Linked DNA regions of Homo sapiens: all the other regions are linked to region 4. The links come from fine-mapping of genetic effects on gene expression. A gene starts in region 4. Each other region holds a variant in brackets. All regions are shown on one strand. Distances are from middle to middle.

Region 1 (4,000 bases), 130 kb after region 4:
AGTATCAAAATGCAGTTATTTAGGCCGGGTGGGGTGGCTCACACCTGTAATCCCAACACTTTGGGAGGCTGAGGCAAGTGGATCAGTTGAGCCCAGGGATTTGATACCAGCCTGACCAACATGGCAAAACCCCATCTCTACTAAAAATACAAAAATTAGCCAGGCGTGGTGGCAGGTGCCTATAATTCCAGCTACTTGGGAGGCTGAGGCAGGAGAGTCTATTGCTTGAACCCTGGAGGTAGAGGTTGCAGTGAGCTGAGATCATGCCATTTCACTCCATCACCCAGGATGGAGTGAGACTCTATCTCAAGAAAAAAAAAAGTTATTTAATAAGCATGATGCTATCAACTGTCAACCTTAAATAATGAGATTCAGAAAATATCATTAAGTATAGAGTTTGCTCAAGCACAGAGCTGGAGGATGGCCACCCAGGAAAACAGCTTCAAACAAATGGGGTCAGTGTTCCACTCTGGAGAAGTTAAAGTATCATATAGGCAGAGACAGAAGTTTTAGCAAGATTATACCATTTTCCACGTGAGGCTAGTGAGTATGTTACAGTGATCCGATTGATTACAGATTGCTCCTTGAGGAGGGGTGGTGATCTGAGGGGTCTCATCTCTGGTCTTAATTATTTACAGCATTTCTGAAAGGCAGAAGTTGCAGCTGCGTGCCAAGCGACGCAGGCTGCAGAGCCACATTCCTCTGAAGTCTCAGGATAACTTAAAGTTACAACAGCTTTGAGTTATTTAATTTCACACAACTAAGAAGTCAGATTTACAAATAGAAGCAATGTATAAAGTTGAATAATTTTTGTTTACTATTTAAAAAATTCGAGATTAAAATTTAATCTGGTATTTCAGAGTTTTAAACCCTTCTTGGACAAACTTTTGTAATGCAAGAGACAGGTTGTTTTGTCTTTGTTTTTTCTTTCTTTTTTTTTTAAAGTATTTTTCTAGAGTATTTTCAGCCTGGGCAACATAGCAAGACCCCATCTCTACAAAAAAATTAAAAATTAGCTGGACATGGTGGCTTGTTCTTATAAGCCCTAGCTACTCAGGAGGCAGGAAGATTACTTGAGCCCAAGAGTTCAAGGATATAGTGAGCTATGGTTGCAACACTGCACTCCAGCCTGGGCATCACAGCAAGACCTTGTCTTAAAAAAAAAAAAAAATTGTCTGGGCACGGTGGCTCATGCCTGTAATCCCTGCAACTTTGGGAGGCCAAGGCAGGCAGATCACCTGAGGTCAGGAGTTCGAGATCAGCCTGGCCAACATGGCGAAACCCCATCTCTACTAAAATACAAAAATTAGCCGGGCGTGGTGGCACATGCCTGTAATCCCAGCTACTCAGGAGGCTGAGGCAGGAGAATCCCTTGAACCCGGGAGGCAGAGGTTGCAGTGAGCTGAGATGGTACCGTTGCATTCCAGCCTGGGTGACAGAGCGAGACTCCATCTCAAAAAAAAAAAAAAAAAAAAAATTATTCCAAGGAAGCATTGGCCAGGTTGGTCAGAAGTTGATAAGAACGTCACCTGAAGACCCTCCACGGGAAAGCAAGTGCCCCTGATTCTACCCAGCAGCTTAAGGCAGTCTTAGCCTGATAAGTCCATTAAATCACATTTCTCATTGGCTAGCTAGGTTGTCACTTTAGACTTTAAAAATAATTGGTAAAAGATCCTGAAGCTTCCTTGACTTTTTATCTTCCAAATTATTT[A/G]GTTATGCCAAGTTCCTTATCAAGACTCTTTTTTTCTCTCTCTCTCTTTTTTTGAGACAGAGTCTCGCTCTATCTATCATCCAGGCTGGAATGCAGTGGCGTGATCTCGGCTCACTGCGACCTCCACCTCCTGGGTTCAAGCAATTCTTCTGCCTCAGCCTCCTGAGTAGCTGGGATTACAGGCGCCTGCCACCATGCCTGGCTAATTTTTGTATTTTTAGTAGAGATGGGGGTTTCACCATGTTGGCTAGGCTTGTCTCAAACTCCTGACCTCAGGTGATCCGCTCGCCTCAGCCTCCCAAAGTGCTGGGATTACAGGCATGAGCCAATGCACCAGGCCAAGAGCAACAAACAGAACAAAGAATAGAGTCCCGGTGAAACAGAGACCACCATTCCAGGTCTGCCATGAAGCTGGGCAGGAAGAAACTGTTAACTGTTGCCAGGGGCTCCTGATCACTTAGGGTGTACCAGGTAGCATGCTGAGTTGTTCACATGTATAACCATTTTAATCTTCGCAATATCTGAATGAGAGAAGATATAGTTGGTTTTCTGTTTTACAAGTGAAGAAAACTGATGGTTCAAAAGGTTCAAGTTTCTTGCCCAAGTTCACTCACCTGCTAAGGGGCAAAGTCAGAATGAGACCCAGGCAGCCCAGAGTCAATGCTCCCAACTACTTTATACCCTCCAGCCTGGAGACAGTTAGACCAGGACCTACTATGTGCACAGCCTGCACCCTAGAGCAATTCAGAGTCTCAGGGTGAAAACGGGGGAAGTGAATGGAGGTAGCTATTTGAGGGCTGAGCTACACAAACACATACACACCCATATTCTTACATGCATATATGGTCTGTGTATATAGATATACTGTATGTATAATATATAATAGCATATTGTGTAGGTATATATATACCATATGCAGTATATATATGCTATATCAATGTATACCTACTATATACTTACATATACACACATATACTTTTGTTTGATAATAGTGTACAATAATAATAGCTAACACATACAGTGCTTAACTGCATGCTAGGTCCTCTTTGAAGCATTTTGCTGCATTAACTCATTAAATCCTTGCAACAACCCTCTTATTAACTCCGTTTTACAGATGAGGAAACAGGCTTGGAGAAATCCAGTAACTTGCCAAGGTTGCCCTGCTGGTAAGTAGCAGAGGCTGGATTTCAACACATAAGCTGGCCCCCAGGGTCTGTGTTCCAAACCCCATTCTATTTGCCTCTTAGAGAAGCTCACCAAGTGTCAGGGGCAGGCTGTGGGGTGTCCTGACCAGTGGCCCCTAGTGTGCAGAGCATGATAGTAGAAAAGGCCAGGAAGTGTGCTGGGCTTGATTTAGGACACAGGTGGGGTGGGTGAGAGACGTGTCCTAGGGCTGGATGGTGATGTTACAGGGCACGGACTTTACTGTGGGCAGCAGTCAGGAGGCCCATGCATTTTGGAAGGTGGCATCTGAATGCAGACTGGTCCTGAAAATAATAAAATAGTGGGGTTACTAAAGATAGAATTGCTAGTTTAAACTGTTTTAATGTAGAAACTGCCTCACCAAACCAGGAGGCAAGAATGGTGAAGACAGTTGTGTCAGTGATGAGAAGATTCTAGAAACCCAGGTATGGAGACTTCCGTGAAGAATTCATTCAGTACAGTAGGGTTGCGTCAGTGTGCACTTGTGCACACTCAACAGTGCATCCTCAGGGAGAGAGGTGTTGAGATCCTGTAAGGAGAGTACTTTATTTGCCAAGGAGTTGAAAAAACAGGTAGAAATAACGGGAGCTAGGGTGGCAACCGGCCCTGAGATCAGCCCGAGGCTAAAGAAAGATAAAGGCAAACCCAGCTGATGAAAAGATCCCCTATGGTGCTGGGCGCGGTGGCTGACGTCTGTAATCCCAGCACTTTGGGAGGCCGAGGCTGGTGGATCACGAGGTCAGGAGATCGAGACCATCCTGGCTAACACGGTGAAGCCCCGTCTCTACTAAAAATACAAAAAAATTAGCCGGGCGTGGTGGCGGGCGCCTGTAGTCCCAGCTACTCGGGAGGCTGAGGCAGGAGAATGGCGTGAACCCGGGAGGCGGAGCTTGCAGTGAGCCAAGATCACACCACTGCACTCCAGCCTGGGCGACAGAGCGAGACTCCGTCTCAAAAAAAAAAAAAAAAATCCCCGGTGGGTGTGCTGTACTGGTCGGTCTGTTAAGACTAAGAAGAACGCTAGTACATTTGTAGAAATTATCCACTTTCTTTACTCTTGTTTCTTTACCTTAAAGTTTTTTTTAT
Region 2 (8,184 bases), 190 kb after region 4:
GCAGCTCACTCTGCTGTGGGTGTAGTGGACTCTTGAATTTCACTCCCAACCACCCGCTTCCATGCTTCCCTCGGGAAGTGACCCCTCTTCCACCCTTTGCCCAGGTAAAAGCCACGTATCGGCCTAGATTCCGACCTCTCCCTCCTCCCTACAGCATGTCTTGCCAGCTCACCCCGCAGAGCTCAGCCCTTCCTCTCCACGGACACCACCTAAGACACCATCATCTGCTTTAGCCACTCCCTAACCACACTGAACCCCAACCCCCGCCTTTTTTTTTTTTTTTTTTTTTTTTGAGACAGGGTCTCACTCTTGCCTGGGCAGGAGTGCAGTGGTGTGATCATGGCTCACTACAGCCTCCATCTCCCGGACTTAAGTGATTCTCCCACCTCAACTTCCCGAGTAGCTGGGACAGCAGATGCTTGCCACCACACCTAGCTGTTTTTTTTAAATTTTTAACAGAGACAGGGATTCATCATGTTGCCCAGGCTGGTCTCAAACTTCAGGATTCAAGTGATCCTCCCTCAGCCGTCCAAAGTGCTGGGATTACAGGCCTGAGCCGCCACACCCGGCCTAACACACTTAGCCCCTTTATGGCGTATCCTCCCACAGCAACCAGCAAAATTCGAAATGTCAGTGGGAGCATGTTGGCACCCTGCTTAGAGTCCTCTAGAGTCTTCTCCCACCTGCCTCCTATGACCTGTGAGACCTTCTGTGCGCCTCTCCCACCTGCCTCCTGTGACCTGTGAGGCCTTCTGTGCGCCTCTCCCCCTCTCAGACCTGCGCCCAGGCACACCCCATGGATATGTTCACACACAGACATAAAAAGTGCACACTCAGACTGGGCGCGGTGGCTCACGCCTGTAATCCCAGCACTTTGGGAGGCTGAGGCGGGTGGGTCACGAGGTCAGGAGATCGAGACCATCCTGGCTAACATGGTGAAACCCGTCTCTACTAAAAATACAAAAAATTAGCCGGGCGTGGTGGTGGGCACCTGTGGTCCCAGCTACTTGGGAGGCTGAGGCAGGAGAATGGCGTGAACCCGGGAGGCAGAGCTTGCAGTGAGCTGAGATCGCACCACTGCACTCCAGCCTGGGCGACAGCGAGACTCCGTCTCAAAAAAAAAAAAAGTGCACACTCACCTCCACCACTGCCCAGCTCACACTGTCCTGGCTTCTCTGGCCTTCTCTTCCTCCCTCAGGCAGTCCTACTCCCCTCTGCAGGGTGACTGCTGTGCCCCCACCCATCTCTTCCCCAGCACTCACCTGGCTGGACCAGGTCTCAGCTCAGTGGCCGCCTCCCCTGGGACCACCCAGCCTTCCCTCTTCCCAGCACTCACCCCTGCTGACTGTGCTCAGCTGGTGCATCCCTCGTCCGTCTCCCTGCCAGGCCTTGGGCTCTGCAGAGGTGCCCACTGAAAGCTTGTCCTGTGCCCTCTACACCTCAGAGGGGTTCAGAGCCAAGCTCCAGGACCCCTGCTGTCAAAAAGTGTTCCCTGGGAACAAGTGCAGGGAACAGTCCTGCAAGCAAGGGACTGCTTGCCCTGCTTTCGGACAGCCTTCTGAGAGCCAGTGAAGGCCAGCAGCTGGGCTGAACACTACATCATCCTCAGAACCACCCTGCACAGCCGGTGTGCTCCCCGCCATCGACAGGAAAAACGGGCCCTTAGAGGCACAGGCAACTTGCTCGGGGTTAGGTGCAGCGGGTGGCAGAGTCAGAATGTGAGGACAGTTGGGCCACTCACTGCATTGTGCCCAGGAGAGGACAGCTGCATGACAGTCTGCCATTCACAAAGCATGCCCAGCTGCAGGGCCTGAGATGCAGACACCCAAAAGAGTTCTTTCACCTTCTCAGGTGACCATTGTCGAAAAAGCTGACAGCTCCAGCGTGCTGCCCAGCCCCCTGTCCATCAGCACCAAAAGCAAAATGACATTCCTGTTTGCCAACCTGAAAGACCGTGATTTCTTGGTGCAGAGGATCTCTGACTTCCTCCAGAAAACACCATCCAAGCAGCCAGGCAGTATCGGGAGCAGGAAAGCCAGTGTTGTGGACCCTAGCACAGAGGTGAGAAGCCCCTTGGGAGCAGCAGGGTCGAGTTGGGCCCAGGAAGAGCCAGGGCATCCATCAGCCTCCCCGCTGGAGCCTGACCCCATGGTTCCGGCTGTGGGCCTCCGCCTAGGGGTGGATGTGTCAGAGCTGGCAAGAGACCCCTAGCCCAGACCCACACTGCCCAGCAACATCACAGCCTCTCTGCACCCCCAGCCACACACCCGGTACTCCTCACTCCTGCTGGGCCCATTGCCCATGAGGAACCTTCTCTGGCTGTCCTTTCTGCATTGCTGCTGCACTCAGAGCAAAGCCACACTGTGGAGGCCTGTACACTTCGGCTTTGTTCCCATGACCTTCCCTGCCAGGCGTTCAGGCTGAAGTTCTTGACGGTAGAACTGCAGTATCACTATTGTACCAGCAAACTTAACAAGAATTCCTTAATATCACCAAATATTGTATTCACACTTCCCCGTGTGCAAGTGTACTTTTCACGGTTTGATTATTTGAACTGAGGCAGACGAAAGTCACACATGTCACTCTTGGTTGATAGGTCTCTTAAATCTGTTTAATCTACGGGCTTCTGCTCCACCTAGCTCTCGTTTATTCTTCCACAATATTTTTTTGAAGGAATCGGTCACTTGTGCCATAGAGTCTCTCATCGTCTGGTTTTGCTGATTGCATCCGCTGCAGGCGTTTAGCAAGCTCCTGTGTCTCTTGTTTAAGTTGGTTGAGCGGTGAGACCGAGAGCCGTGATCACATTCAGGCTCAGCTGATTTTGGTTCTGGCAGGTCCGCCTGTGGGCAGGCTTGAGGTGCTGTTTATTCCCAACAAGAGATGTCTGGCAACCAGCCACCTCTCTATGCTACTGTCAGTCATTGAGAATATGCCTGGATCCAGCGGCCAGTGGCCAGCGGCATGCTCATTCCATTCCTCCTTTCGTCTGGGAGCTGAAATTCTCCCAAAGAGGGAAGCTGACCCCAGGCACAGTTCATAGAGGAAAGGTGGAATACATGTTTTACTCTTTCCTCTTACTCACCAGTTGTCAAAATAATGATGAGTTGGTTTTCTAGTGTCTTCCACATGTGACCAGTGAGTTTTTTGGTTTACTTTTTATTGTAATTATGAACGTATGGATTTAAGCAACTTGATGTGTGTCTTTCCACTGGAATCACTATGCTTATTCTGTCTGTGGCCAGAGGGGCTCATCTGGTCTAGCCCTGAGAGTCCCTGGGCA[C/T]GACACTGGTCGTCTTTGATTCCTTGCTTTCTGGTGTGACAAGATGGATGTGCTGCTGCTGTCGTTGAGTCTGAATTTGCAAAAACATTTGGCCATTAGAAGAGTCCATATGCAAATTCACAGATCCAGCTTCTCTAGAAAAGTCAGTGCCCAGCCCTAAAGGCCCCATCCCATTGGGCAGCGGGCGTGGGAGCTGGGGCTGTGCGTGTCCTCCATGCTCTAGAGCCGTGTGTGGTCTGGCCCAGGCAGACCTTTACATTGTCTGCCCCAGTAATAGATGCTAAATAAATTACTACGTCAGTGAGCGCATGGGAAGGGGTGGGCGGAATCAATGTGGATTGCAGACATGAAGAAAGGTGTGGAGAAGGTTGGGCTTCATCTGGGATTTCAAGAAAGAGTGAAGTTGGATTGAGTGGCAGGGGCAGTGAACAGGGTGGTCGAGCCTCCTCTGCCTCCATGAGGCCCCACACTTCCTGAAAGCTGAGTAAGCACCACTCACGGCCCCTCCCAGGCACTCGGCTTCATGCATCCAAACACATTTTATTGCATTCCTGTTAGGTGCCAGCTGCTATTCTAGGCCCCAGGAGTAGAACAGTGAACACATCGGACAGAGTGCCTGTTCACTTAGAGCTGTATTCCAGTGAGGGAGGCAGTAAGCAAATAAACATACAATATGTCAGGCAGTGATAAGGGCTGTGGGTAGAAATAAAGCAGGATGAGGGGATCAGGAGTGCCAGGGGAAAGAAGGGGGCTCCATTTTCTCTCTGTTGCTCATGGGCAACCTCTCTGATCAGGCAGCACTGGAGGAGAAACTCGAAAGAAGCAGGGGAACTAGCCATAGCCTGTCTGGGGCAGGGTGTTGGAGGCAGAGAGCACAGCAAGCTGGGAGACAGGATTGGATGTGGCACGGGCTTCTGGGACCAGGGCTTAGGAGACTGACCAGGTGTAGGAGGTGAGACCAGAGAGGTGGCAGAAGGCCAAGTCACCGAAAGCCCGTAGGCCCTGTGAGTGCTGCAGCTTTGACTTCAGGTGAGAGGGGAAGCCAGTGAAGAGTCATGACCAGAGGAGGGCACGACCTGTTTACGTGTTAATGGGGTTACTGTGGCCGTCCATGTTGACAGTGGATTAGAGGTGCCCCGTCTAGTACAGCAGCCACGTGTGGCCATGGAGCACTGGAAATCCAGCGGGTGCCAATGGAAATGTGCTGTGAGTGTTCAGATCACTGTACACGGGTTTTGGAGACTTCGTATGAAAAGAAAAACGTAAAATACCTCCATCTTTTTTTTTTTGGGGGGGGGACAGAGTCTTGCTCTGTCACCTAGGCTGGAGTGCAGTGGGGCAGTCTTGGCTCACTGCATCCTCTGCCTCCCAGGTTCAAGTGATTCTCCTGCCTCAGCCTCCCGAGTAGCTGGGATTACAGGCGTCCACCACCACGCCCGGCTTATTTTGTATTTTTAGTAGAGACGGGTTTTTGCCATGTTGGCCAGTCTGGTCTTGAACTCCTGACCTCAGGCGATCCACCTGCCTCAGCCTCCCAAAGTGCTGGGATTACAGGGGTGAGCCACCGTGCCTGGCCACTCCATCATTTTTTAATTGATTCCTGTTGAAATGCGAGTATTTTGGATATATTGGATTAAGTCAAATATATTGTTAAAATTAATCTCAATAATTTACTTTAGGACTTTACAATGTGGCTACTAGAAAATTTACAATTACATTTGTGGCTCTCATCATCTCTCTTGGGCAGTGCTGGACTAGAGAGTGGCAAGAATAGAAGCAAGGAGGCCGGCTGGAGCCCATCACAGAAGCAGGGGCACAAGATGATGGAGTCGAGCATCAAGGGTAGGAACAGTGTAGGTGTAAGAAGGGGTCAGATTCAGGAGACGCTATTGTGATAAAATACACATAACAACATTTACCATTAAGTACATTGACATTGCTATGCCATCACCACCATCCATCCACAGAACTTTTTCAGTTTTGCAAAACTGAAACTCTGAACCCATTAAACAGTAACTCCTCAGCCCCCACTCCCCCAGCCCCTGGCAAGCACCATTCTACCTTTTTGACTTGAATTGAACTATTCTAGGTAATGCACATAAGTGGAAGCATATAGTATTTTCCCTTTTGTGCCTGGCTTATTTCATTCAGCGTGATGTCCTCCAGGTTCATCCCTGTTGTAGCGTGCTCAAGATTTCTTTTTTAAGGCTGAATCATATGCCATTGTATGGATAAGCCACGTTTTGTTCACTGTTGAAACTTGGACTGCTTCCACCTCATGGCTATTATGAGTAACACTGCTGTGAACATGGGTGTACAGATGTCTGTTTGAATCTTTACTTTCAGTTCTTTTGGGGACATACCCTGGAGTGGAATTGCTGGATTGTATAGCAGTTCTATTTTTAATATTTCAAGGAACCTCCGTGCTATGCTCTATCCACCAACTGTGCACCACAGTTGGAGGCCAGACCACCAACTGTGGCATGACTCTGTGCAGACACAGAGCCAGTAGCTGTGCTGAGGCAATGGCGGGAAGGAAGAGGGGCTCTGATAGTCCTAAGAGCCAAGGAATCCAGAAGTCACCAGAATACCCCTCACAAGAGACTACTCAGCAAATGGAAACCTCAACAAGTGAATCTGAGAGACAGCCAGTGAAATTGGGAGCCGATTTCTCAGGCTCCAGTTTATAGAGGAGGCTTTTTTTTATTAATGGAAGCACAAAATCCTGCTTTATTTCTACCCACAGCCTTATCGCTGCCTGACGTATTATACGGCTGAGGAAAGATCAAGAATGTGAGGGAAACCCATGCCCTTAACAAAAACTTCTCTTCTGAAAGACAAGAGCTCACCCCAAGAAAAAAAGGACTGGGATTGAACAGAGCAGGAACACTTGGGGTAAAGGAGAAAAGCTTTAGATACAAGAAAGAGGTGGCCAATCCCAGAAAGTACAGGAGCAAGGACTACACAGACCGACCACAGCAGGGGAAAGGCCTCTCCAGCTGTGGAGTTCAGAAAGCTACTCTGACCCACAACTGCCCGTACGTAGAACATCCTGCTGAAAGAACAGGAAAAGATGCTGATCACACCCTGTACAAAGATATTGCGGGGAGAAAGTGAACCAGATAACCTCCCACAGATAATGAAAGCACACCAGAAAAACATTCCTCCAGGCAGATGAAAACTGTGTCCTGATGTTTCTGAGTGATCTCAAAGGAATTAGAAAAACGACAGAAACTACTAAAGAATGGTATAAATTAAAAATGTTTAAAAAGCTCAGGTTAAAAGTGACTAGTCAACAGAAAAATATGAAGAGAGTTGACAGGACTCAGGAGGAAATAAGAAAAAAAAAACCAGATATTTCTGAAATGAAAATCAGGAACACAAGAATGAAAATACATTAAGGTAAATAAGGAAGAGATAGGAGAAAAATGGAGTCAGAGGAGACTCAAACAAATAGAGAAGAAGTTGTCCAGAGAAGGGATAAAGAAGTTAGGCAAAGAAGATCAAACTTACGTATAATCGTAGTGCCATCCCACACCCTTCCCAGAAAAAAGCAGTGGAATAACAGATAATAGAAACTGTGATTCAGGAAAACTGATAAAATAAGCTTGAACTTGTATAGTGGAAGGACACATTGAATGTCTAGAAAAATCAACACAAAATAGTCGATATTGACATAAAATCTCATAAAACTGTTCAATTTTAAAGATTAAAAAATTATTCCAGGCTGGGCACAGTGGCTCACACCTGTAATCCCAGCACTTTGGGAGGCTGAAGCAGGCAGATCACTTGAGGCCAGAAGTTCAAAACCAGCCTGGCCAACATGGTGAAACTCTGTCTCTACTAAAAATACAAAACTAAGCTAGGTATAGTGGCACATGCCTGGAATCACAGCTACTTGGGAGGCTGAGGCACAAGAATCACTTGAACCCAGGAGGTGGGAGAAGGAGGTTGCAATGGGCCACGATCCTGAGAGATTCCTCCTCAAGAGAGGTATCAGACTTTGTGATACAGTAACAACATTTTAGAGTAACTTTTTGTTGGGGGTTGGGGAGGGTGTCTCCTGGAGTGCAGTGGCACAATCTCGGCTCACTGCAACCTCTGCCTCCCAGGTTCAAGCAGTCTTGTGCCTCAGGCCCGTGAGTAGCTGGGACTACGTGTATGTGCCACCATGCCTGGCTAATTTTTGTATTTTTTGTAGAGATGGGGTTGAGATTTCACCATGTTGGCCAGACTGATCTCGAACTCCTGACCTAGGGTGATCCACCTGCCTCAGCCTCCCAGAGTGCTGAGATTATACAGAGTAACATTTTTAAGATATACAATAAAAGAAGCTGTGACCCAGGGATTTTATACCCAGCCAAACTGACGTTCAGGTATAAAGACCATAGGCTGTAAAGAACATGCAGAGGAGTTCAGGGGCTCTCTCAGCTTCTGTGGAGTCTGCTGGAGAACAGACTCCAGATAACCAAGGAGTGATGGAAGCAGCTTGGGCCTAACGACTGGTGGTAGCATTGATTATATTTAGCTGTGGAATTAAGGTTAGATAGTAGGAATAGAGGTGACAGTATATAAATGTTATAATCTCTGATGATGGAGACATAGTACAATCAAAACCTGAGGTTAGGGAGGTATATGAGGCTGGGCTTGATGGCTCATGCCTGTAATCCCAACACTTTGGGAGGCCGAGGCAGGCGGGTCACCTGAAGTTGGGAGTTTGAGACCAGCCTGGCCAATATGGTGAAACCTCGTCTCTATTAAAAATACAAAAATTAGCCGGGCATGGTGGCACACACCTGTAATCCCAGCTACTTGGGAACCTGAGGCAGGAGAATTGCCTGAGCCCAGGAGGCAGAGGTTGCAGTGAGCTGAGATCACACCTCTGTACTCCTGCCTGGGTGACA
Region 3 (7,837 bases), 67 kb before region 4:
GTGTGTGACATTACGTCAACCTAATTTTTAAAAACTTTTTCTAGAGATGAGGGTCTCACTGTGTTGCCCAGGCTGGTCTCAAACTCTTGAGAATGTGTAAATGTGTAAAATTCTGCACATATTCAAGCAAGGGCAGAAAGGGCTCTGATTTGGGGCCGTGGACCCACCACAGCCTTTGAGGCTAAAGCAGTGGGACCATTTCCAGCAGCTGTTGGGACGTGGTTTCAGCTGCAGGGCTGGATGGGCAGGTAGAGGGTCGCCCCAGCTGCAGCCAGCACAGAAGCCATGGGGAACCATGGCGGTGCAGTTGGCAAGTCTTTTTGGCACACACAGAGCCTTGGTTAACAGCAGTTGCTGCCTGTGTTGTGGTCTGGCCCTAGCAGGTGGCGAGCTCCCCGTGGCGAGTGCTGGCCTTGGGGGTCCTTTCTCCACAGCAGGCACTGTGCGAGGTACTTCGTGCACCAGTCTCCATAACCTGAAGAGGGGGACTGCTCCCTCTTCTCAGAGCTCACAGGTGTCTTCCTGAGACACGCGCGTGGTCCTCACAGGGGCCTTCGGGAGCCTTCTTTACCTCTGTCCCTTCTGCCACACCTGGCCCAGGGAGAACATCCCTCCAGCCCCCAGGACGCGCTCTGACCAGCCACCTGCTTTTCTTCTGCAAGTTCGATGGATTTCCATTTTGCAGATGTTTAATGCCAGCCACCCATGCTGAGGGATGTGGGGACCCCAGCAGGAACAGGGTCTGTAAACTGACCACCTTGGCACTACAGATGTCATTTCTAACTGTGCTTTAACTCACTGTGTGGCCCCATCAGTGGCTTTTTAAAAAAATAGAATTAATTGCCACCCTTACAATCACAATATGAAACGTAAGTCAGGAGTCCTGGATGTCCTGGATGACTTTTACACCAGGAAGGTCTGAGCACGCCAGCTCCCAGAGCACAGCAGAGCTTGTGGGTTTTCACTGGTACAGCCGGCCCACCTTCTGCCAGCCCCACGCTGAGGAGGAACAGCAGGGCCCTTGGGCACGTTTTCAACTGGCTGGGGGCAGGTGACCATTACCTCTTTCCAGCACCCACTGGAATAGCAGGAGAATGCACATCCATCTTCAGGGCTGGCCTTCCTTATAAACGCACCACATGGTGCCCCTGTCCCTGCACACATTTCCCGTCTCCCATAGAGGGGTTGGGCTGGGGCCATGCTGTCCCAGAAACTTTGCCAGCGCCAGCGGCCTGGAGCAGGGTGGGCCCTGAGCCTGTCAGTGAGGCCTCCAGAAGGAAGGATGCCCAGCTGGGTGCTGGCAGGCATCAGAGTGCCCCCCTGCAGGGTGGCACGTGGGATCCTGTCCCCTGTCTGCCTGTCTCTCTGCAGACCTGACCCCACACAATCCTCGCCTGCTGTCTCTTGAACTGCTGCAGGAGCCCCAGGACCTCCAGGTGCAGGGCCTGGAGACACACACAAGGAGAGATGCCTGAGGGGCTGGGGGCCAGGCAGTGGGACAGGAGCCATGGAGAGGGAAACCGAGGCAGAAGCTCATGCCTCAGCCACTTGGGGCTGTGTGCCAGAGCCAGGCATTTCCTCTCAGTGTCCTGTCAGTGCCCTTGCCACAGCGGGGGCACGTGCCCCCAGCCTCACCATTCCAGGCCTGGAATCAGTTCAGGTGTTCCCAGAGCCATCCTCTGATGAGTGGACTTCAGCTTGGACGAATGACTCTAAAACGATGGGGTGCGAGGAGGGCACAGCAGCGACTCATTTCTCAGGGCCTCACTGCAGTCTTCATCCACGTGAATGTCATTCCCACCATCCGCACCTTTCTCTCCTGCTGTTTTCCCCTCCTTGTGCCACACTGTTTTCTGTGTTATGACCGTGTGTTCAGAACCATCACTGCAGCGGCCACAGCCACTCCGCCAGTGCGTCTGTGCACCTCCCCGTCCATGCTCCCTTTGTTTGCCATCTGTGCTGCTCGAGAGTGTTCGCTGCTGGGATTTAATGCTGAAGCAAGGGCCTTTCTTTCCACAGCTTGTCCCCTTTATTTTCTCAGGATACATTTCCAAGGCTTTGATTAGGATGAAAGGACGCTATAGAACATAACGCTCTTGGTACATTGAGCCAAATCTTGGTACAATTAAAGGGACCATGACAACGCATACCACCCCTCCCCGCAGTGGTGTGTAAGGGGCTGCCCTTGCATGCCTGCCAGCACTGGGCATTTAATTAAGTCTCATTCATTTCATGGGTAGGAAGCGGAACCCCACGGGAGCAGCCACACCGTGCATATATCTAGTTCACACACACCGAGCCCCACGTCCCAACGAGGCAGACAGAGGGAGAAATGGAAAGGTCTCTCTACAGGGTACGAGCAGAACGTTCCCCATCCATGCTGAGCCCCTCATGCTGACAGCCCATCTATGCAGCCCCCAAGACTCCCAGCCCCTTTGTCACGTGCATCATTCAGGCCACGTGCACAAAACACAGATGGGAGACTTAACAGTGATTTCAAGACTTCTGAGAGATATTGTAACAATAAACAATTGTCCCATCATCACTGCCTTTTTTAAAAAGTGTGATATGAGGTCAGGAGATCGAGACCATCCTGGCTAACATGGTGAAACCCCGTCTCTACCAAAAATACAAAAATTAGCTGAGTGTGGTGGTGGGCACCTGTAATCCCAGCTACTTGGGAGGCTGAGGCACGAGAATCCCTTGAACCTGGGAGGTGGAGACTGCAGTGAGCAAAGATCGTGCCACTACACTCCAGCCTGGTGAGACTCTGTTTAAAAAAAAAAAAAAAAAAGTGTGATAAAATACACATAACATAAAATGTATCATTTTAACCCTTTTTAAGTGACAGTTCAGTGACATTAAGTACCTTCATATCGTGGTGGAACTGTCACCTCCATCCCTCTCCAGAAATCTTTTCTTCTTCACAAGTGACACTCTGTTCTCCTGTCCCACCCCCAGCCCCTGGCACTCGCCGTCCCACCGTCTGCCTCTGTGAACGTGATGACTGTAGGTGCCTCCACAAGTGGGGTCACTCAGTGTTTGTGCTTCTGTGTCAGGCTCATTTCACTTAGCATGACGTCCTCAAGGTCATCCGTGTTGCCGCAGGCTCAGAACCTCCTTCCTCTCTGAGGCTGACTCCTGCCCCACTGTGTGGAGAGGCGTTTTCTCCATCCATTCGTCACTGATGGACGCTTGGGCTGCTGCCTCATTTCTTTTTAAAAATTATTTGTGGACATCCAAACAATGGAATATTGTGAGGCAATTTTTATAAAAATGAATGAGGCAGCCCTGCCCTGCCATGGAAAGGTCCTCAAAACGCATTGTTAGTGAAGAAAGCCCAGTGCGGGGGAGTGTGGACAGTATGCTACCTTTTTGTGTAATACAGACAGAAAAGGGGTTATGTGTTTACATGTCCTTGTCTTTGCGTAAAGAAGCTACAGAAAGACTAGAAACTAATAAAAGCGTCACTTACAGGTGGAGCGAGGGACCCTCGTTACATGGCTGTTTTTGCACACAAGGAACGTGATGCTCTGATCACTCTGCACACTCCCTGACCCCAACTCAGTCACTCCCCACTACACTTCCAGGAGCCACTGCCTGGCTCCTGACACCTAAGCATATACTCCCATGATCACACCACGTTGCCCCCCGCTCCGCCGAGCCTCTGCACATGCTGGTCAGTCTGTCTGGCATGTCTCTCTGCCGATTGCATCCTGCCGTCAGCCCTCAGTGCAGCCACCCTCACCCAGCCCATTCCAGGCAGGCTGGAGCTCCTGCTGGAGGGAGGAGGAGCTGGCTGTCCCTGGCGGATGGAGGAGCAGCAGTGTCCTCTGTGTCCCCAGCTGTCCTCATGCAGAGGCCAGAGGTGGGCACCTGGCCTGTCTGCACCAGCACGCCTGCAGGGAGGGGTGGGAGTGGTGGGGGAGCCCGCTGGTAGCAGCAGCTCTGACCTCACCTTCTCTTAGGGGCCAGGACATCCACCGCAGTGAGCACAGAGAGTGGTCACCCCCTTTCCCTCACAGCACGCCTCCCGTGGGGCAGTCTCTGCACAGCTCTGCCTCCCTTACCAGCTCCCTGAGGTCGGGCTTTGTCCCCATTGCCTGGAATGGAGCCAGGAGTCACCCCATGCATACACGCATGAATGGATGACCCTTGGCAACCACAGGAAAAAACTGAAGGCTGCGGCACAAGGATAAGCCCATTCATTGAGACCCAGACCTGGACCCAGCTGGTGATACGATGGGTGATTGGAGGTCGGAGGACCACTGGCAGCCCAGCCCCTCTCTGGGCATCCCTGTGGGTCACAATAGTTCAGCAACCACCACCACCCCTGGCTCCAGCGAGAGCTAGTCGCTCCAGAGCAGAGCTGGATCTGAACACTGCTCCCACCTCCCATGTGCCCAGCACCTGGGTCCAGGCCAGGCCCCAGGTCCCCTGGGAGCCTCCTGGCTGTCTCTTTAAAGTGGCAGCCTCCTGGCCTCCTTCAGAAAGGCCCCTGCATGGCACCTCCCACCATCCTGCAGAGGCTTCCAGAGCCACCTCCACCCTTGCCACTGGCTTGTCAAGAAAATGGGGCTGGGATCTGGGGCAGGCCCAGCGTTGCAGGGTGAACAGGTGCCAGGTGTCCAGCAGGAGACAACGGACCTCCCAGGCTCACAGGTTTTCTATCTTGTGGAATCAGGCTGAGCTGCCGGGCCCTGGGCAGGAGGCAGAGCAGCGTGCACCCTGCAGCCGGCCCATCCCGCAGCTGTCCCCCTCCCACTGAGCATGTGCAGCTTCCTGCATGCCCACCTGCTCAGCCGCCTCCCCCTGGGACAGACAGGAGGTGATTTTGTGAAATTTTACGGTTTCATTGGCTGAAAATTGAACACTTACAGCATTGTCAGGGAGGCGAAAATAAGCTGTCTGTCACCATGGCCAGGACTGTCTGGGCTGCTGTCCACACCAATGCCTGAGCCCTTCCCATGCTGTAACCCAGTCCCAGCACCTCCCACACCCACATGGCCACGGGACAGCCCTCTGAGGGGCTCCCTCTGATCCCCAGTGTCAGCTCTGACCCACCACGTCCCTCTGTCTCTACTCCCAGGGCAGGGTCACTCAGAGTGCTGCAAAGGAGAAATAGGCCAGGGTCAGGGTTTGCCATCGGGGCAGCAAGGACGGCATGAGCAGGGGAGCCTCAGAGTCCATAGAAGACCCTGCAGTGAGCTGGCAGGACTCCACGATCAAGAATGTAGGGGCTGTCTAAACAGTCACAGGTTTAGCCAGGATGCGTCACTGTGAGGGCTCCTGGGCTTTCAAGGAAGACTGGCCTAGAGGGGTAAGTGGAAGAGCTTCTGAGAGTAAGCATGGGCTCCCTGCAGGTGGGTATGGACACCTGCTGCTGCCAGGCCCGTCACTCAGAGCAGGGTCACAGAGGATGTGCTCTGGCCTCTGCCTGGAGGTTTGGGTAGAGAAGACACTGTAACGGCTGCAGCTGGCCTTTCCCTGTGCCAGGTACTGACAGCAGCACCCAGGCACCCAACAAGGCTGACAAGCAGAATCTGCTGATGCCCACCAGAGGTCAGGTGCAGCCTTGGTGGGACGCAGGGAAGGCTTCACCGAGGACGAGGCATTTCAGCCATACCTGGAGGGATAGGGGAGTGAAGATGGTGGGAGAGCCTTCCTGCAGGAGGGAACGGCATGTGCAGTGGTTCAGAGTTGGAGAAGGCATTTGGAGGAGAGAACGTGGCTGGTGCCAAGAGCAATGGGGTGTGATAGGCGGTGAGGATGGACAGGTCAGCTAGTCCAAATCACAAAGAGCCCAGAATGCCAGGTTAAGGAGGACAGCAGTTTTGACTGTACCTGAGAGAACCCCAACTTAAAGAGGCACATGTGATGGAGAAGTCCATGGAGCAGCTTCTGTGCTCAGCACAGCGACACTGTGCTCAGGAATGTGCCCACTTTCCTGCCACAATGGCCCCAGTAGCGTCGGGCATACATTCCACCAGCTCAAGGACTCCAGGGGGAAAGAA[A/G]GCCTCCAAGTGCCACATAAGTTCTGGGATTGCAGCTGAGCCCCCCTAATTTGGATGGGGCCAATCCCTGAACCAATCTTTGTGGCCAGAAGCAGGGGGATTAGGCTGATTATCCAGGCTTGTGAAAAACAACCTTCGTGGAGGGGTGCCGGGGGGAAGAATCTAGAAGAGGCCTGCCCCTGAGTGGGGCAAGAGGAGTAGACAAGAGATGGGTCCTGCAGGAGAGTTGAGAGGCCATGAGAAGACGGAGAATGAAGGCTGTGCTGTGAGGAAGGGGCCCTGACAATACTCCCAGGAAGTGACCACTGGACTCAAGCTGGCACAAAGTGGCTGTGGGGGGAGCCTGCCCAGCCAGGAGCCCCGGGACCAGCAGCTCCCACTCAGGTGCACCCAACTCAGGTGTGCCCCCACTCAGGTCCTCACTGCTCCTTGCCATTGCAGGCAGACATGCCACAGACGCTGAGTGCCTCCGACATGGTCACCCCAGGCAGCCTCAGCCCACCCCCCACCGAGCCCACAGATGGCGAACAGGCTGGGCAGCCCCTCCTGGATGGAGCGCCATCCTCAGCCTCCCTGGAAACACTGATCCAGCACCTGGTGCCCACAGCCGACTACTACCCCGAGGTGGGTGATCCACCCAGCGGGCAGGAGAGTGGGCTCTCCTCCACCACGCACGGGGGGCATCAGGGTTGGGCGTGACCTTGGGCCAGGGTACAGGGCCAGCTGGGAAGCATGCCCCTCCTGGTGCCCTCCTGAGCCTGTGCCCTCTTTCTCGTGTGTCCCCCAGAAAGCCTACATCTTCACCTTCCTGCTGAGCTCTCGCCTCTTCATCGAGCCCCGGGAGCTCCTGGCCCGGGTCTGCCACCTGTGCATCGAGCAGCAGCAGCTGGACAAGCCGGTGCTGGACAAGGTGAGGCGGAGGGCAGGCCAGGGGGTCTCAGAGTGTACCAGCACTGCCCTGCCATGCCCTCAACGCATCAGCCTCTCGGGGAGGCAATGATTGTCCCCGTTTTCCTGACAAGGTGGCTACCGGGTGTTTCCACCTTGTCTGAGGCCCAGAGCCAGAAGGAGCAGAACAGGACCTTTAACCTCCATGTAGTTTTCCAGTGCCCGACGGGAACCCTTGAGCCCATTAAGCCCAGACCTGAGTATCCGGAGCCCGGTCAGTAGGACCCATCTGTGGCCGGGAGGGCCTGCTGCCTCTGGTGGGCTTCCTTCCCCCAGCACATCCGCTCCACCTTCCCAGTCCTGGCCGGGTCCTGCGGGCTGCCTCTATTGCACACGCGTCGGTAGGGCTCTACCGCTAGTGGGAGAGACCCAACTTCAACCCGCCTGAACCAAAAGGACTTAGCTGGCCCGTGTACCTGCCCTATCTCAGGGACCGCTGGCTCGGGCCTCACACCACAGCACTGCACCGTGGCCTGTCTCCCTCCCGCCCTCTGCTGCCGCTTCCCGGGGCTGGCCTCCCTCGGGCTGGCTGGTGTGGCGCTTGGCCGCCTCCACCGCACCAGGCTCACCTACCACCCTTTCCGGTCACGTGGAAGCCTCAATTCCTTTTCTCTACTGGCCCAGTGAGTCTCCTCATTGGCGTATCCTAGGTCACGTGGCCACCTGTGAGCCAATCACTGTGCACGATGGCGTATGCCTGCTCTGATTGGTCGGCACAGACCTAGACCCACCCCTGGGGCAGGGTCCCCTGCTCTGAGGACTCCCCACTCCCCGCAGCGCGAAGACTCACCAGGGAGGATGGAGCCGTCAACCGCAGAAAGGCCAGAGCAAGAGATGGCCCTGCCCAGAAATGTGTCCGTCCCCCCTCCTCTCCC
Region 4 (7,831 bases):
TTTGAGATGGAGTCTTGCTCTGTTGCCCAGGCTGGAGTGCAGTGGTGCAATCTCGTCTCACTGCAACCTCTGCCTCCCAGGTTCGAGTGATTCTCCTGCCTCAGCCTCCAGAGTAGCTGGGATTACAGGTGCATGCCACCATACTCAGCTAATTTTTGTATTTTTAGTAGCGACGGGGTTTCACCATGTTGGCCAGGCTGGTCTCGAACTCCTGGCCTCAAGTGATCTGCCCACCTTGGCCTCCCAAAGTGCTGGGATTAACAGGCGTGAGCCACCGTGAATTCTTCACAAGGCAAATTCAGCAAATCTGATGTGAATGTGAAAAAGCTCGGCCAGTATCAGAAGCATCTCTTGTGTGGTTGATGTCTCCATAGAGCCCTTCACCTACAGCATCTGTGAGGACTTTAGGGTCTATAAGGAACACAGCCTCCCTGGACAGCCTGCTCCATGGAGTTGGACTGGGTTTCTGCAGGGCTTTTACCTGCAGCCACAGCTGGGGGTGGGGTTTCATAATTACCAACAGTGGAAGCCGCCAGCATAGATGGAGACTTACAAGGGGCAGGAGCAGGAGGTGGGCGTGGGGAGGGAAGACACAGATAAAAGAGGCTCAGGTGGGGAGGAAGGGGGCAGCTTGAAAATATGGCGCCAGTGCCTACCAACACGAAATACATGCCTGCACATGACACAGCATCCCACTCCGAAGGACACTCTCAGAGATGCAGACACATCCCCACCGAGAGGCATGCAGGCTTCATAACGGCTTGATCCATCACATTCACAAACGAAAATCAATATGAATGCCCATCCACAGGAAAATGGATAAATCAACAGTGGAACACTATACAGCAAATAAAAAGAGCAAACTATACCTACACACACAAAAACACGAAATCTCACAGACATAGGTTAAGAAAAAGAAACGACACCAAAGATTCCATATTGTATGATTCTATTTATATTATATAAAGTTCAACAACAGGCAAACTAATCAATGGTAACAGAAAGCAGGATAGTAGCTGGGTATGGTGGTGCACACCTGTAGTCTCAGCTACTCGGGAGGATGAGGTGGGAGCATTGCTGAGTCCAGGAGTTCAAGCCTGCAGGAAGCCATGATTGCATCACTGCGCTCCCGCCTGGGTGACAGACTAAGACCCTGTCTCTAAAGAAAGAAGAAAAGAAATCAGAATGGTGGGGTGCTCACGACGGAGCAGCTCAGGGAAGCTTTCAGGAGTGCTAGTAATGTTCTCCATCTTCATCTAGATAATGGGTAAAGGGTGTTTCCGCCTCATAAAAGACGTTTTGAGTTGTAAACATAAAATTTTTGCACTTTATGTATGTTATGTTGCAATATAAAAAAGCAATAAATGTATGAAAGAAGTAAAAAAAAAACACAATATAGTGCTGGGTGAAGAGGATCAGAAACAGAATGACATCAATAACCCAATACAGTTTAATAATTAAAAAGCACAGGCACATTAAGCAACAACACACATTTTGCAAGAACACAAACAAAAGAGACGCATGAGGCACACTAAAATGGTTCCCTATGGGTCAAGGAATGGGAGTGAGAAATAGTGATAAAAGGGAGCATGTTAATAATGAAACAAGAGCAGGGCCTTCCTAGGACCAGTGGGGATTATGTGCCATTCAAGAAAGAAAAGGAAGAGGAGGAGAAAGAGGAGTTGGACTTTGGGAAATCTGGGCAACCCCCTGGGGTTTGTAGCACTGTTCAGGGGACCCCCGCTTGGTCTCTGATTGCTGGCATCCCAAACTCTGTGCAGCATGCTTTACACACACCCATTACCCTGTCTGCTGTCCTGGGAGGGCAGACATTGCTCACAGGGGAGACAGATCTCCTCCTGAAGGACTGAAGCTCTTACGGGGCCTGGATGTGGGAGGCTGGCAGCTCGGGCCCCACTGGAGTTCTGGGGAGAAGGGGATTTTGAGCTGGGGCTTACAGGTGACCTAGGATTTATTGTAGGCTGAGAAATGGACACAGAGGCAGGGGAATATGGTGCGTGGTGGAGTCAGGGAAATAACCCCATTAAGGAAAAAGGTTCGTGGGCAGCTCATTCACAGGCCAGCGTGGGCCAGAGCCAGACTGCGGCACACATCCTCCGTGAGACCTGCCATGTCCGATAAAACCACTCGTACTTTTATTTAACCAATACTTTTAATTCACTTTTTTCTTAAATGTTTTAAAAGATAGCATCGTGTAAAGATATACACATGGCCAATAAGCACATGAAAAGATGTTCAGCACCACTAATCATTAGGGAAATGCAAATCAAAACCATAATGAGAGACCACCTAATACCCATTTAGATGGCTACTATTTTGAAAAAGAAGTAGAGAAGTGTTGGCAAGGATGAGAAGAAACTGGAACCCTTGTGCAGTTGGTGGGAATGTAAAATGGGGCAGCTACTATTAAAAAAACAGTAGGGCAGTTCCTGAAAAAAATTAAGCATAGAATTACCATTAGATCTGGTAATTCCACTTCTGAGTATATACACAAAAGAATTGAAAGCAGGAAGGGATATTTATACGCCCAATGTTCATAGCATCATTATTCACAATAGCCAAACAGTAGAGGCAACCAAGTGTCCTATGATGAATGGATAAACAAAGTGTATTATATACATACAGTGGAATGGATGAATGGCTAAAAAAAAACTTGGAATATACATACAATGTGATATGATTCAGCCTTAGCAAAGGAGGAAATCTGATACGTACTTCAACAGAGGTGAACCTCAAGGACATCGTGCAAAGCAAGATAAGCTACTCACAAAAGGACAAATACTATATGATTCCACTTATGCGGGTAAGTAGAATCATCAAAATCATAGAGACAGAAAAGAAGAATGGTAGTTGGGGAAGGGGGAACGTTTAATGGGTGCAGAGTTTCAGTTTTACAAGATGGAAAGAGTTCTGGAGATGGATGGCAAAGGTTACACAACGATGTGAATGTACTTAATGCCACTGATCCATATGCTTAAAAATGGTTAAGATGGACAATTTTATGTTATGTGTATTTTACCATAATATTTTAAAAGGTAGCGTTGTATCACTATTATAAATGAAAAACTTCTTGTCTCCCTAAGGTCTCCTTAAAACCTTGAGGTTTCCTTAAAAGACAATGCCACTCCCAAGTACAGGCTGGTGTGAATGTTGCCGTACATGCTGGTGCGTGATGAGGCTGTGCACCGAGACCTCATCTTGCTTTATTTAAAGGGGAGATCAGCAAGTGCCAGGGAAGTGTTAAAGGTGCTCTGGAACCAATTTTCTCCTTGACAAATTCAGAAGGGTTGAGAAAGCCACTTCCTCCCCACCTGATTAACAAAGTGGTGCTTGTGAGCTTCTATAATTGTTTCTTGTGCCAGGGGTCATGGGCACCTTACAGTTTGAAGACTCCTCCTTTATAAGGACAAAGGAGTAGAGGCCATGAGCCTCTTGGGCAGGGGTAGGCCAGGGCATGCCCAGCAAGAAGAGCAGGAGACCGTCACCGGGAAGAGCCCTACACAGGCCCTAGATGTGGCCCTGGGCTGTGGGGAGAAGGAATTTCTGGGTCTTAGGTGCTAGAGCATGGGTACCTTGGTGCTAAGGACTCCTTGCCCTATGAAGGGTCCAGCTGGAGGGGACCAGATTAGAGCACTCTTTAGGTGCCAGGCCCAGGGCGAGGACCCCGCTGCTTTGGCCTAGGGTCTGTACTTGCCGAGGATAAGTAAATAAGTAAAAGCCGTTCTCCATAGGCCAGGGCACGGTTTATAAGGACTATGGTAGAGGATGGAAGAGAGGGAAATGGAGGGAGAAATTGTAAAGGATGTCTGCCAAGTCATCAATAGTGGACATCTGTTTTCTTTCTTTTTTCTTTTTCTGAGACGGAGTCTTGCTCTGTCGCCCAGGCTGGAGTGCAGTGGCTCGATCTCTGCTCACTGCAACCTCCGCTTCCCGGGTTCCAACGATTCTCCTGCCTCAGCCTCCCGAGTAGCTGGGACTACAGGCACGCATCACCACGACTAATTTTTTTATTTTTAGTAGAGACGGGGTTTCACCATGTTGGCCAAGCTGGTCTCGAACTCCTGACCTCGTGATCCGCCCACCTAGGCCTCCCAAAGTGCTGCGATTACGGGCGTGAGCCACCGCGCCTGGCCAGTGGTGGGCATCTTAAGTTTTAGCCTGCACTGCATCCGTACCCTTTCCTGGAAACAGTGCCTCAAATTTCTTTTTGGGGAGCCACCTCTTTTCCGGATTTTCAGAACATTTGGTTGTGCAAAGCTGACTCCACCCACTTCCCGCAGTAGGAGACAGGAGACTCAACCCTGGCTGGTCAGAAGACGCCAAACTTTCCCCCTCCGCCTCCCCACAAAGATCCTGTAAGTTCCTGAATTCGGCTGCACTGCCCCATTCTTCCTTTTAGCTGATACTTTATAGCGATGTGTATCTTTTAAACGCCATGGAGAGAGAAAATGAGAGTCGTGTGTGTGTGCGCGCGCGCGCGTTTCGGAAGGTGGAGGGGGGGTTCCCACTGCAACCCTCTGGTCCGGGGGCCCCTGGAGTAGTTCACCTAGTCACTAGAGCAGGGGCTCCCCAACCGCCCGGCCGCGGACCTGTACCGGCCCAGGGCCTTCGAGGAACCAGTAAGCGAGCAGGAGGTGAGTGAGCATCACCGCCTGAGCTCCGCCTCCTGTCAGATCAGGGCGGCATTAGACTCTCATAGCAACGTGAACCCGGCTGTGAACTGCGCATGCTTGGGACCTAGGTTGCCCACTTCTTACGAGAATCTAACGCCTGATGATCTGAGGTGGAGCAGCCTCATCCGGAAACCACTTCAACTCCCTCAGTCCCTGGAAAAACTCTCTTCCTGGAAACCCGTCCCCCAGTGCCAAAATGGTTAGGGACGGCTACCCTAGAGGTCTTTCCCAACCACTCGTGTCCCTGCAGGTCCGGGCCAGAGACATCCCCCATCCATGATGTCAACCGCATGACGTGAATGTTAAATCTCATGACATTTAATTTTAAACATTTCTTTTAAAGTTATGGCTTTTTTTCCTTTGTAGTCTGTTCTCACACATTTCCATACGTCCTCGCAAATCTCCCGGGCTCCACGCCCTGCGGCTATCACGCCTGACAGAGAAACAACCAGCACCAGCGGCTGACCCGGCTGCCCGGGCCCTCGTGCAGGCGGGCGGGAGCGGACAGGCCCTGGCACGCATGCGCTCGGGGCGGGACTGCGCCTTAGGCCTGCGCGTTGCCGCTAGACCAGCGGGGGGGCGGGGCGGCGGCGGACACGCGCCTCAGGCGGCAGCCGCGCGAGAGGGACTTTGTGTTCCGCTGACCCTCCTCGGGGCGCTTCCTCCCGTGCCGCCCTTCCCCTCCCCCGCCGCGTCCTTGCGAGGCGCCTCCCATTCGGTGGGACCGACCCGGGGGGATGGAGGGGGCACGCTTCTACAACCCTCCTGGGACCCCGAAGAGACGCCCGCGTGCGACCTGAGACGCCGCCCTCGCCGAGGGCCCATGGGCGCGTCCCCACAGGCGGGCAGTGGACGTGAGGGCGGCGAGCGGCGGGGCCGCGGCGTCCAGGAGGGCCGCGCTCGGGCTCGGCCCCGCGCAGGCCGCGCGCGCGCGCTCCCGCCGCCGCCCGGGCCGCGCCCGCCCCGCCTCTAGGCGCCGGCCCCGGAGCCCGGTCCGCGAGCAGCGGCGGCTGCCGGAGGGACGATGAGCTGCGCGGGGCGGGCGGGCCCTGCCCGGCTCGCCGCGCTCGCCCTGCTGACCTGCAGCCTGTGGCCGGCACGGGCAGACAACGCGAGCCAGGAGTACTACACGGCGCTCATCAACGTGACGGTGCAGGAGCCCGGCCGCGGCGCCCCGCTCACGTTTCGCATCGACCGCGGGCGCTACGGGCTTGACTCCCCCAAGGCCGAGGTCCGCGGCCAGGTGCTGGCGCCGCTGCCCCTCCACGGAGGTGAGTGCCGGCCCGGGGGCGGCGGGCGGTGGTCGCTGCATCCCGCGTAGGCGGCGGGACTAGGGTTCCCGGCCCCGGCTCTGGCCCTGGCTCTCCCGCGCTGCCCGGCCGACAGCCCCAGCCAGGGTCGAGGCTTCCGTCGTGGACAGCCCGGCCTGCTCCCGTGGGAACCAGGCTCCAGGAGCGTGACTGGGTTTTTCCCTTCTTTTAAAAAAGACTTGGAACGGTCATCTTTGCGTTCAGGCAGCTCGTTTGCTGGAGGGCATTGAGCTAGGAGTTTGCAGGGACAGCGTAGACAAAGGAGGTGGTGCAAGAGCGCAAAACTACTTCATGGGGAGGACGTCTCAGCCTGTATTTTGGAAGCGGCAGGTTCCTCAAATCACGGACTTAAGGCTGCGCTAGATCTGGAAGGATGCGGCCCTTTTCTAATATAAAAACGTGCCGTTTTTCTTAAGTGGTAAATTGGGGGGGGGGTGTAAATGGAAAATGGACATCTTCCCTGTTGCTTTTGGCTCTTGTTCTTGCCCTAGTAGTTTTACTGTAATTTGACGCCTGAAAATGTCACATTATGAGGATCTGACACTAATCGGAACTACTAGCCAAGGCTTTTCAGGTCACGGGTGCCGACCAAAAGGGAAATAGGTAAAATTTTCAAGAATTGTCTTTGAAACCATTCGGCTTAATGTCATGTTTTCCTATGAACAAGGACTTTGTTTAGTTGATTATTTGGTGTAAACATGTATTTGTTTAAATTATTAGTCATGGTTTGAAAGAAACCTTTTGCACATCGTGGAATATGATTTTTTGGGTTTTGGCCCACGCTGAACTTTTGGGAGATATCTGCCATTATCCCCACCCTCATTGTCACCCTGAGAATGCTGAGAGGGGATTTTTCTTTTCTAAACTGCTGTTCATGTTAGGATGACCTAAAGTAGGCAACCTAAATAAAGTCATGATTTGCTTGTACACTCTTAAGATACTAACATATTATGCCCCTCTGAGGTCTGTATTTGTATGCCAAAGTGCTAAGCTGTTTTCTTCTTTGAGACAGTCTGGCTGGGGAAAAATAATCACATAAGGCTTTTACTGTAGCCTGTCCGCAACTCAGACTAGGCTTTGAAAAGTCCGTTTTACACCAGTAATCAGGTGCTTAAGGTGCATATCTCATCTCTACTGTGTTAAAAATGGCAGTTAGGGTCCCAGCTTGGCCGTAGAAACAACTTTTGTCTTGGGTTCATTCAGTAAATATTTGCGTTCCTGCTCTGTGCCAGTCACTGTGGTTGAGATGCACAGTGTTGCCAGACTGGCAACTAACAATGGTAGCCTCTTTTCTGGTGGAGAGAACCGTGAGGGTCACGTGGAAGGGTAGAAAGAGGAAGGGGAGGCAAGCTGTTGTGGAGCAAGAGCTGGTCCTCTGCAGTGTTGTGAAATCTGTGGTTTGTCTTTGAGGCTTGGTTCCATCAGGCACCCCAAATCCATGGTCTGAACTTCAGATCCTTCCTCCACGGTGTTCGTGTGCTTCAGCTACTTGTTGCTTGCCTGTCACCCCAAACAAAAGCCCCGTCTTTGAGAAAGCTTGTTTTAGGTGTTTCTGTAGAAGGGTATTGGAAACTAACTCATGTGTATTGAGGTATGGATGAAGATTAGTCCTGTTCCCCTCTCAGTGGGGAGGCAGCATTGTAGGATTAAAGGTTCTGAGTCAGGCCTGTGCTTTACGTCCATTGTGTGACACTGTAAAAGTAACTCTGCCATTTAGCCTGTTTGCTCATCTGTAAAATGGAATGATGAAATGTACATCTCTTAAGGTTGTTGACAGGTTTAAACGGTTCCTTAATTCTGAAAAGAGGAGATTTGTTAACCTAGAGG

Direction of the effects. Alleles are on the strand shown, and positions count from the first base shown. SD is a standard deviation of normalised expression in the study named. Not every link is listed here.
For the expression in testis of the gene that starts at base 5,662 in region 4, allele A in region 1 goes with a lower level than allele G (small effect, 0.19 SD a copy in GTEx).
In carriers of allele T in region 2, the expression in adrenal gland of the gene that starts at base 5,662 in region 4 tends to be lower than with C alone (small effect, 0.37 SD a copy in GTEx).

What was found. PIP is the estimated chance that this variant, and not a neighbour inherited with it, causes the effect.
Region 1: its variant is the best candidate, but not a certain one, in a credible set for the expression of RNF130 in testis (GTEx, PIP 0.51).
Region 2: its variant is the best candidate, but not a certain one, in a credible set for the expression of RNF130 in adrenal gland (GTEx, PIP 0.54).
Region 3: its variant is the best candidate, but not a certain one, in a credible set for the expression of RNF130 in uterus (GTEx, PIP 0.73).

What each region holds. Positions count from the first base shown.
Region 1 is chr5:179,946,439-179,950,438 of GRCh38, reverse strand. It overlaps a transcript of RNF130 not described here and the pseudogene LOC101060066. Among named protein-coding and RNA genes, the nearest start is that of TBC1D9B, 41 kb to the right of the region's middle. The variant A/G (reference allele first, on the strand shown) is at 1,712.
Region 2 is chr5:179,881,980-179,890,163 of GRCh38, reverse strand. TBC1D9B (TBC1 domain family member 9B) reads left to right here. Exons shown (of 21, transcript NM_015043.4): 7 at 1,852-2,061. Among named protein-coding and RNA genes, the nearest start is that of TBC1D9B, 22 kb to the left of the region's middle. The variant C/T (reference allele first, on the strand shown) is at 3,281.
Region 3 is chr5:180,136,677-180,144,513 of GRCh38, reverse strand. RASGEF1C (RasGEF domain family member 1C) reads left to right here. Exons shown (of 14, transcript NM_175062.4): 2 at 6,456-6,638; 3 at 6,802-6,924. The coding sequence starts at 6,462. Among named protein-coding and RNA genes, the nearest start is that of RASGEF1C, 69 kb to the left of the region's middle. RefSeq lists an enhancer at 6,966-7,465. The variant A/G (reference allele first, on the strand shown) is at 6,015.
Region 4 is chr5:180,069,590-180,077,420 of GRCh38, reverse strand. It overlaps RNF130 (ring finger protein 130), which reads left to right and starts at 5,662. Exons shown (of 9, transcript NM_018434.6): 1 at 5,662-5,965. The coding sequence starts at 5,719. RefSeq lists a silencer at 5,312-5,391 and an enhancer at 5,281-5,988.